Regions from separate parts of the Homo sapiens genome. Here region 1 is linked to region 2. Evidence: fine-mapped expression QTL. A gene starts in region 2. The other region holds a variant in brackets. All regions are shown on one strand. Distances are between the middles of the regions.

Evidence for each region. PIP is the estimated chance that this variant, and not a neighbour inherited with it, causes the effect.
Region 1: its variant is the best candidate, but not a certain one, in a credible set for the expression of LASTR in sun-exposed skin (GTEx, PIP 0.59).

Annotation. Positions count from the first base shown.
Region 1 is chr10:5,486,505-5,491,740 of GRCh38, reverse strand. No RefSeq gene overlaps it. Among named protein-coding and RNA genes, the nearest start is that of CALML5, 10 kb to the left of the region's middle. The variant C/T (reference allele first, on the strand shown) is at 2,115.
Region 2 is chr10:5,593,393-5,598,628 of GRCh38, reverse strand. It overlaps LASTR (lncRNA associated with SART3 regulation of splicing), which reads left to right and starts at 2,511. Exons shown (of 2, transcript NR_134491.1): 1 at 2,511-2,618; 2 at 3,050-3,645. RefSeq lists enhancers at 1,151-2,023, 2,309-2,603.

The DNA of each region.
Region 1 (5,236 bases), 110 kb after region 2:
GGTATGAGGGTCTAAGTGAAGAACAGTGAAGGAGAGACAGGATCCCCGGCCTGAGTTCGGCGATTCTGTCCCTCTCAGAACATCCATCATGTCATGGGAATACAGTCTGGAATCCCAGAGCCAAGGCCTGCTCCAGGCTTGTGGCCGACTTGGCATCAGGGAGTCTGGGTGCCCATGCCAGGGCTGTGGCCTTGGCAGTTGGACCCAGGGAGGGGGGCAGGGGTGAGCCCCCTACAAAGAGGGCTGTGGCAGGAAGCTCTGTGCTGATTTGGAGGTCTGGGGAATGGGCAATCAGAGAAGCATTAAGGAAGGAGAGAAGTGAAGCCACTCAGACAGCCTAGGGAGGCAGAAGACCTGTCTGGGGCAGACAGAATAACAGAGACAGGGTGTTCTAAGCCAGTTGTTCATTGTTGTTGAGCCCATTCTTAAGAAGGGCTTTGATGGGGCCACAAAGCAATAAGAAAGCAGCAGATTCTCTGAATCTACTGTCCCAAGAGACGAAGAAGGGAACTTGAGGGACTGGAGAGGAAGTGGCTCACTTCAGGTCTTAGAGCGAGGTGCTAAGAAGGACCTGGAGTGGAATTCAAGGGCTCAGAAGGGGGTCAGGGGACTGCCTTCAAGGGGTGCTTCCTGGGCATACTCTGCCCAGGGACTGGTTTTGAGGTGGGGGTCTGGTGGTGGGGTTGGTTGGGACCCACATAGTGGAATGTCTTCCGGAAGCTGGTGACTGTGAGTTACGAGAGATGCACAGACATGGCCTCTCTGCCGACTCTGAATGGCCTTGAAGACCCTCAAGGGCAGAGACCAGGCTATGCTCCACGTCTGGGTCCACAAGGGTGCCCGGTCTCAGCTCAGAACACCAAAGAGAGTAGACAGAGCCCAGGAAGCATCCGAGCAGCTGGCGCAGCTTCAGGTCACTTAGGAAAACCCAGTTCTTTGAAAGCTGCTTCTCTGAAAATTGACTTGCCAGAAGCTTAGTTCTGCAAATGGTAAACGTGCTGGTATTTCCCAACTTACTAAAAAGTTTTTTTTAAAGGATACTTAATAAAGATCACAGAAATTCATATTGGATGAGCTATTCTAAGTTGTTGACTATTTCTTTGACGTTTTATTTACTGAGTTTAAATTTTTAGTTTTGTTCAGTTCTACTTTTAGTAAATTATTTTAGCGGCAGTCAGTTCACCTAACCATTGTACCATAACCTGACAGTGTTTAAAGTTGTCTGTTTTTGTTTTGTTGTTTCATTTTTAGCATTTTGGTTCAATGGTTTTGGAGAAAGAGAGCTTCTGGTTCATTTCAAGATTCAGCCATTGGACACGTCTTCAACGTCCAGGATTTTAGAGATTGGCAGCTTTCTTTCCCCTAATAGAATTTCAACTTAAATCTATTGCTTTAGTACTTCTTTCAATTCACTGATTTATTCACTGGCTCAATCAAATGGATATTTTGCAAGTGGTTTAAGTATTTGGTAAGTGCTTGGAGTCTGAAATATGAATCACACATGAAACTGACATTCAGCAGGGGAGAACTGCACTCATGAAGCTACTGGAGTTGACTTGGGTGGGACAGCATTGGGGAAACCAAAACTAATTTCAAGTAAAGCAAAACTTCCCCCAAATCTTCCAAGAGGTTCTTCAGTAGATTGATTTGTCGGTAGATTGAATTACTCTACTTCTGATCCAAATACATGTTTCAAATTTCATATACGAAATAATACATTTTCTTCATTGGATTGCCCCCTGGATCTTTTAAATCCTAGTTTATATCCATCCTGGTAGGCCTGGTGACCCAATCCTTCTGTTAAGTTCCACATCAAATGCCTCCTGCTTTTGGAAGCTTTCCACAGCCGGGCCTGGCGCAGAGGGGGTTCCTCTGCACCTCTTTTCCAAGCAAATGGCTGAAGGTGATCTCTCCCTATTTGTACAGTTCCTTCCAGAGTGCACCTCTTACGTCATTCCTAGTGGACAAGGCCTATTCTCCATCCTCAGAACCCTGAATAGTGAAATAAAGCCCATCAATGCTTAAACTAGATGACAGGCTCCTCAAGTGTGTTGGATTCTGCATGAAACCCTCCACATGCACTGTGATGGCACGACCTGGCAGGCTCCTTTGCC[C/T]GGGAGGCCTCATCTCCAGCATGGGGGAGATGGCTTCCGTAGTGCTGATGGGATTAAAGGAAATCTTCACAGAGTTGTACTCTGCAACAAGAGGAAGAGTCAGAAATGCAACTGCAGAGAGAGGACTCCTGTCTTGTTCTCTCTTTTTGTTGTCCAAGAACCATGAAAATAGTCCTCGTATGATCACAAAATCCCAACTCATCCCCTCTTGGTCCAAACATAGGGAGAATCAAAGGCATGTCACCCTGCCAGGTAGTCAAAGATGTGGACTCCAGACCTCTAAGACCAGCTTTTAAGAGTTCAAGCCATTGTTTCTCTCTCCACAGTGGGTCCCCCTTTTATAAAAACAACAACAACAAAACTCATCAAGAACAGATTCCCAACAGGTATGGTGATCATGTGTTCCAGAAACAATTTAGGTAGAGTATTCTATCTCAGTTTCTCTGGAAATGAGTCCAGCTTTTAGTTTTTGCATGTGAACCACGGCCGCAGTGCCTAGGCTGCGCAGGTCGCCCTCCGTTCCCGCTGGAGAAGCAGGTGAGGCCTTCCCAGCCTGGGCCCAGTGCAGTCAGGCCCTGCCCAGCCCACAGATGCCTGCACCTTGCTCCTCCCCTGGCTTCCCTCTCACGTGGCTGCAGCTGGGGCAAAGGCCCAACGACTCCTTCTGTAAGCTTCTTCTTGCTTTTGCACTGTTTACCATCTCCAGGTGTGAGCTCATCTCTTTCCCCACCACAGGTGGCCCCACCCGATCTCAGCTCTGCCTTTCCCGCCTCTCTGCTGGGTTGCATAAGCCAGCGATTCCCAACCCCGGCTGCACCTGGAAGCTACCCCAGGAGCTTCTGGAGAATGTGCCGTGTGAGCCATCCCCCTGCACTGAGCCCTGGTGGGTCAGCGGTGGGGGCGCCCAGGCGTGGGGGTCTATTTAAAGCTCCCAGGTGCTGTGCGGCCAAGATTAAGAGGCACTGCTCCAAACTGTCCTGGCAACTCTGACTGTACCCGGCACTCCCCACGCCCAACCTCCCTTCTGCCCCTGGGCAGGTTGGCATCCAGTGTCGGGGAGAACCCTGGAGGCGAACGCCAGCCTTATAGAGCCCCACTGTTGGGAGGCCTGCAGGTTGGACAAGGCGAGGTCTGAGTCACCTTGGTTGGGAGCAGATGCTGCCCTGTTGGTGGCCTGCCAGCCTCTGTCCCCACCCCACCACTCAGAGACATGGTGTGCCTGCACTTTCCTGATCCGGGAGCTCCTGCCTTGCTGCCCAGATGACCTTTGGCCTAGGAAGAAGTCAAATCTCAGTGTTTTGGACCGGGCACGGTGACTCACAACTGGAATCCCAGCACTTTGGAAACCCGAGGTAGGTGGATCACTTGAGGCCAGGAGTTCGAGACTAACCTGGCCAACATGGTGAAACCCCATCTTCACTAAAAATACAAAAATTAAGGCGTGGTGGCAGGCACCTATAATCCAAACGACTCAGGAGGCTGAGGCAGTTGAATTGCTTAAACCTGGGAGGCGGAGCTTGCAGTGAGCCGAGATCGCACCACTGTACTCCAGCCTGGGCGGCAGAGCAAGACTCCGTCTCAAACAAAAACAAAAACAAAACAAACAAAAACAAATCTCAGTGCTTTTGATGAACAGTATTTTCCTGCACCGGGAGCCTTGTGGTCGTGGCTTCATGGAGGAGGTGTTGGTGACTTTCATTCACTCACTCACTATTCTACAAGTGTTTCCTTGGGTGCTTCTCCTTACTGTGAGTCTGCAGGGACTTGGAGGGAGACGCTGCGCCGGCCTCTGGGCCCAGGAGATGTAACATAAATGGCCATGCAAAGACAGTGGGTCAGGTCCCTCGTCAGTGGATTCCCATTCGAGGAGGTGCTCAGAGAAGGGGACAGACTTCCAGGAAGTGGCACTGAGGCGGGGGCAGATTTCAACAGGGGTGGGGCGTTCTTGGTGAGGAAACTGCATGAGTGACGGTTTGGAAGTGGGAGCGTCAGTGTCTTTTGGGGAGCCCGCGCTGCCTGGGAGGTAAGGGAGAGGTCCGAATGCCGTCGCAGACAGCCTGATGGTTTGCTGAAGGAGTCTGGATCCTTTTCAAGTCCCAGTGAAGCCTGGTGATATGGCCTTGGGCAAGTCAGTGGCTCTCTCTGCCTCAGTCTCCTCAACTGTAGCTGGGGGTAACAGTGAGACCCGCCTCAACGTGGTTGTGAGGAGGGTGGGGGGTGGGGGATGTGGAGAAAGTGCTAAGAACAGCGTCTGTGGGGCCGCAGAAGTGTTTTGCATAATGTCACCAAGATTAGTGCTATTTCTTCCCCAGAAGATCAGATGGAGACTCACGGAAGGTTTTTAACCTGTGGGGACGTGCGGCCAAATTGTGCTTTAGGAAGCTTATGCTGGCAGTGATGTGTGGTATGAAGGAGGGCAAGGGAGATGGGCCCTGTAGGAGGCAGATTCGGCCACCTAAGCCTGAGCTGATTAGGACAGGAGGGAAGGTGGAGGCAGTCAGCAGAGAAAGGAAGGGACGTGGGGAGGGGAAGCAGAGAGGAAGGCGTTGGAGGGACAGGGCCTGACTTAGTAACCCCGGGGCCTTGAGCAGTTCTGGACGAGGTGGGAGGGGAGTGAGCAGGGGACGGGAGAGACTCCAGCCCCACCAGGCTGAGCCGTGTCCACACCCTGCCGGGTCAGAGTTACTGCTGGTACCATCGGGAGGGTGGGCCAACCAGGCCCATCTGGCCTCTTGCCTGTCAGATGGTGGAAGCATGTCAGAGTTCTCAGAATCCTGGAGCCACTGAGAGCCGGAGGAGCCCTTGTCCAAGACTCAGGCTGTGATCGGAACAGGGTAGAAGGTGCTGCTTCTAACCCTGGGGCCTGCCTGTCTCCAGAATTTGGAGAAAAGGAAAGTCCTGGACTCCTCTCAAGCCAGGAAGGTGCTGACCAGGAGGGGAGGGTCAGGGAGAGGGGAGTCAGCAGGGACAGCTGCCTCTCCTCCGCCTGCAGGCCCAGGCCCTTCCTAATCTCCAGCTCCACCAGCTTCAAGGCAGAATCTGAATCCACACAGAGTCTGAGGTATCTTGGAAACCCTCTCCTTCCCTCTTGGATGTGTGGACTGTCAGACATTGTGAAGAGG
Region 2 (5,236 bases):
CTCTCTCTTGTTCTCTCTCCTTCTTCTTTCTCTTGTTCTCTCTCTCCTCTCTCTTGTTCTCTCTCTCTCGTTCTTCTCTCTCCTCTCTCTTACATTCTCACTCTCTCATCTCACTCTCATTCTCTCCTCTCTCTTGTTCTCTCTCTCTCGTTCTTCTCTCTCTCTCCTCTCTCTCTTGCATTCTCACTCTCTCATCTCTATCTCATTCTCTCCTCTCGTTCTTTCTCTCTCTCTCATTCTCTCTCCTCTCTCTCGCTTTCTCTCTTGTTCTCTCTCATTCTGTCTCTCTCATTCTCTCGTTCTTCTCTCTCTCTCTGCTTCTCTCTCTTGTGTTCTTGCTCTCTCTTCTCACTCTTATTCTTGCTTTCCTCTCCCTCGTTCTCTCTCTTGTTCTCTTTCTCTCTGATTCTCTCCCTCGTTCTGTCTCTCTCGTTCTTCTCTCTCTCTCCTCTCTCGTTCTCCTTTTCTCTCATTTTCTCTCTCCTCTCTCTCTTGTTCTCTCGTTCTCTTTCTCTCATTCTTCTCTCTCTCTCCTTCTCTCTCTTTCCCTCTGTTGTTGTTTCTACCTCTCCCTTGGCTGCTTCCTATCAGGCCTGATTAATCTCTTGTTGGGGAGATCCTTCTCCCCTCAAGCTTCTTCAAGCCCTCTCTGCCCACTCCACCTTCCCCTTTCTCCCAGGGGCTTGGGGTTTTAGAACCAAAAGCTAGAAAAATGTGCAGGCTGTTTCTGCCCCGGCCTGCCTCACGCCTCCCTCAGGATTAAATGAGATAATAGTACATGTGCCTGGCTCACACAAGGACCCACTGAAGCCGCTGTTGGTGTCCTTGCGATTTGTACTCAGGGATATTGAGGCAGAAAGGTAAACAGGGAAGAGGAAAGGGGAAAATTCAGGGAGAGGAAACCTGAGGCATTCACATTTCAACACAGGCCATGACAGCGGCCCCTGGTCCCTGGTCTTCTGCAGCTGCTGGGGTCCCTCAGTACTAAAGGGAGGGGTGGGGAGCATCCCCCCATGAGGGGGGCATCCCCTGCTGCCCTCTCCTCAGCCACTCTCCTTTCTCAGGTCATGGCATGGATTTCATTTCCAGGAAATCCACTTCTAGCTCACTCGTCAGCAGGCCCAGTTGAAGGGACACAGCCTCATGGGGTCTCAGCAGGCCCCATTGGTGGAATGAAGCCTTGTGGGACCAGCACTCCCGGTTGGTGGGACGCAGGCCTGTGAGCTCAGCAGGCTCATTTGGTGGGACACAGCCTCATAGGGTCTCAGCATCAGCAGAGCTTTGGAGCCTCCAGTCCCCTCTGACACTGCCCTGCTGGGACTGCCCAGCCTCTGCTCAGACGCTTCCAGGGATGGGCCCTTCCTTTCCGGCTCCTGAGTCCTCCTCCTGGTGACTCGCCTGCTGCCCCAGGCGTTTTCAGGGGTGTCAGTCCCTATGTGTCCTCATCTGTCTAGGACCAGTGCCCCTGGGAGCACATGCCTGGCCGTCTGCTGGGAGCCGCTGGGCCAGCCCTGGGTAATTTCTGTGGGACATGCAGACCACGGCGGGCGCACCCTGTAGGTAGTCAGTAATGGCTCACGGATGACGGGTGTGAGCTGGAGCAGCAGTGGGCAGGGGCAGCTCACCTCTTTGCAGGAGGCGGGTGGGGCGGCCGCTCCGGGTGGCTGAAACCGATGGGGCAGGGCTGTCTTGACCACAGCTCGGGCCCAGGCTGCTCATCATCACTCCCTTTGCCCACCTGGATGGGGCTGCTCATGCATGGCCACTACGAACTGCACTCTGCATGTGTGTATGTGTGTGTATGTGTGTATGTGCATGTGTGTATGTGTGTATGTGCATGCGTGTGCGTGTATGTGTGTATGCGTGTGTGTGTGTGTGTGTGTGTGTGTGTGTGGTGGCCTGCGCTCTGTACACACAACCGCCCAGCAGAGAGAAAGAAGAGCACGGGATGGGAGAATCTCCTTTCTTTCCTCTGACGCTGTCAAGCCTTGTGGGTAAATCTGGAAGACGTGGTTGGTGGACAGTTAAGATTCCATTAAAAATGGGAAAGAGCCCCTGCATGTTGCCTTTAGGCCGTGATGCTCACAGCTGGATGAGTGTCTCGCCTGGCTGGTGCTTGCTTCCTTTGAACTCCTTTGCGAAGCAGGCTGGTGGTCTCCCGTGTGGGGATCAGACATGGCATTGGGTCCTGGCTGCACCCCACAGCTGGACCCCGAGCTCTTGTGAGTCTGGGCAGCGTCACCCTTCTGTTCTCCTGGAGTGGAAACGGGAGATGGGTGGATATGTTGCAGAAAAGCAGGATGACGGCAAGCCCCGAGGGCCCCAGCCTGGGTTTCCTGCACAGGCAAAGCTACTTGTGGGGGCTTGAGTGAAGAAGCCACAGTATATTACAACTCAGGAAAAAATCCACATTGTCTGTCCTGAGCAGCCTCATGGGAGGTGAATTAGAGGTGAGTCAGATGCCTTCGGGGGAGGAAATGACTTATCAGGCTGAACTTCCTTCAAAGTACGTCCATCCATCACTTGCAGAAAACAAAAGAGAGCAAGAGAGAAGACAGTGGGTGAAGTCCTGGTTCCAGACTCCCCTTTTTGCCGGGATATGATGGATCTGTCAGCTGGTGAGGCCCCTCTAAGAGGGGTGGTATCTTCGGGCCAGGTCAGGCCCATCTGGGAGGCTCAGGCATTTCCTGCAAGGGTGAAGGCCGCTCTCCATGCACTTTTAGGGTCCCCTGCTCCCACAGCGTAGCCACCCTGGCTCTTCTCCTGGTGAGAGTCTGCCTTGAGGGCTGAACGGTGCCACTGAGGAGCTGGAGAAGCTATAGCTTCCCATGGCAGCTTTTGTGGCCGGGAGTCCTGGTTCAGTCCTGTGCCTAGGGATTCTTGCTATTGCATGCATGCTTGTCTTAGACGGAAAGCTGGGGGAGGCACAGGACTTTCTGTCCGAAATGTTTTGTGCAGTGCTCAGCATGGTTCACCTCTCCTCACTGCCCCAGTATGATGATTTCTGCAAGAGTTTATCCTGATGATTCTATTTCCCCACTTTATAAAGGTGCCTAGAGTCCTAGAGAGCTAGAGATGGAGGGAAATTCAGATCATCTAAACCCTTCAGCCCTTCACTGGACAGAAGAGGAAACTGAGGCTCCATCTGCATGACGTTCCCAGAGTCACGGCACAAATTCATGGAAGAAGCAGCAGGAAACTCAGTTCTCCAGTCTGGGTCCAATGTGTGTTTTAGAAATATCTCCACAGGGTTAATGACTCAATTTTTCATGCATGATTGCTAGTAATGACAATCATGTTATGTTTGTTTCTGTAGCTTTGGAAATCACTCCTTCCACTTGAGTTTCAGGTCCCAACTGTCCACACCTGCAGGAGTGAGGTTTTGCTGAGACTGATAAGGCACTCACATTTTGTGGGAGTTGAATTGTCTCTGTAGCCTAGAATCTAGATTTTTTTCCCTCCTCTGCTCTCAGTGAACGGAGAATTCCATCTCGGTACAATCTGTGAACCATTCTGCAGTAAGATTGTCATCGTCTCATTCATACTACCTGGTCGGTAACACAAAGGGCTGTAATTGATGTGGTTCAGAGACTCACATCCAAGCAATAAAAATGAATCCCTTATGGTGGTCTGCAGCAACGCAAATGGATCCAGTGTCTGGCTTTAATGGGAGTGGGGAAATTGCTAACAGATGACGGTAACTTTCAGAGACAGACAGACACAGAGAGAGAGAGAGAGACTCTGGCCTTCCAGCTGAAACCACTTCTGATGGCAGCTCTTCCTCCCACATGTGCCTCACAGACGTCGAATATTTACGGGATGCCCTGAGCCCAGCCCTGCTCAGGGTTTAACAGCAGGGGCCATGTGTGTGTGACGGCTGAGGTCACGCAGTCGTTCATTTCAAGCTGTAGAGACATTTGGTTTTAAAAACCCCAGTGCCTCCACTGGGATTGGCTTTCGGAGAAGAAAAACAGCTCCTGAGTTCTTTTCCTGTCCAAGCCCGGGTGGGATCATGCTGCATTGCCAGCCTCCATTAACCCTTTGGGGCTGAGAAAGTTCTTAAACCTTGTGACTTTCTCCCGGTGATTTTTGCCTTTTTGAGGAAGCTGTGTGAGCTGCAGTGATTTCCTGTGAGCTCAATGAAAATGTGTCTGATGTGTATGCACCTGAGCTAGAAAGCCCAAAGACTGCTAAGAAGCCATGTGAGGGCTCAGAAACAAACATGTTGGGGCTTCGAAAGCCTGTTTTTGGAACCACTTTCCCTGTCTGCAAGGCAGAGGGAGGGAGGTACTCTGTTATTTCTAAGTCTCTCTTGAGCTCTTACACTGTGCAAGCCCATGAACGTATTTAATCGTGCATTAGACAATTGTTTTTAATCTATGCCCTGCCTCTCCCAAGATCAACCTTTCCCTGAGATCGGGGCCCCCTCTGGGTGCACAGGGATATTTTTATTTTTTGAGTTGGAGTTTTGCTCTTGTCACCCAGGCTGGAGTGCAATGGCATGATCTTGACTCACTGAAACCTCTTCCTCCCGGCTTCCAGTGATTCTTCTGCCTCAGCCTCCCAAGCAGCTGAGATTACAGGCATGCACCACCACACTCGGTTAATTTTTGTATTTTTAGGAGAGATGGAGATTCACCATGTTGGCCAGGCTGGTCTTGAACTCCTGACCTCAGGTGATCCTCCCGCCTTGGCCTCCCAAAATGCTGGCATTATAGGCGTGAGGCACCGTGCCCAGCCCATAGGGATATTTTTATATACTTTCCTGCCCCATGGGTCAACTGTTCTTGAACCAAAGAAACAAGAGGCGGGGAAGTTATAGGAAGCTTTTAAAATATGCTTCTGTGCAGCACTGCTCGCAGCGTGTCACAGATGTGCGGTATTGGAAGACGAAGGTGAAACTGCATGGAGATGATTGTGTGGGGGATGAGGAGGTGGTGGGTAGGGGACTTGGCTTTCTTCACACAAAGACATCCAGGCAAATGGTAAGTCCAAAAGCCGTGTGACAGATAATGGCCATTGTTCCTGCAGGGTGACTCTTTTCTTTTCTTTTTTTTCTTTTTGAGGCGGAGTCTCACTCTGTCATCTATGCTGGAGTGCAATGGTGCGATCTTGGCTCACTGCAACTTCCGCCTCCCAGGTTCAAAGTATTCTTTTGCCTCAGCCTCCTGAGTAGCTGGGATTACAGGTGCCCACCACCACGCCCAGATAATTTTTGTATTTTTTTTAGTAGAGA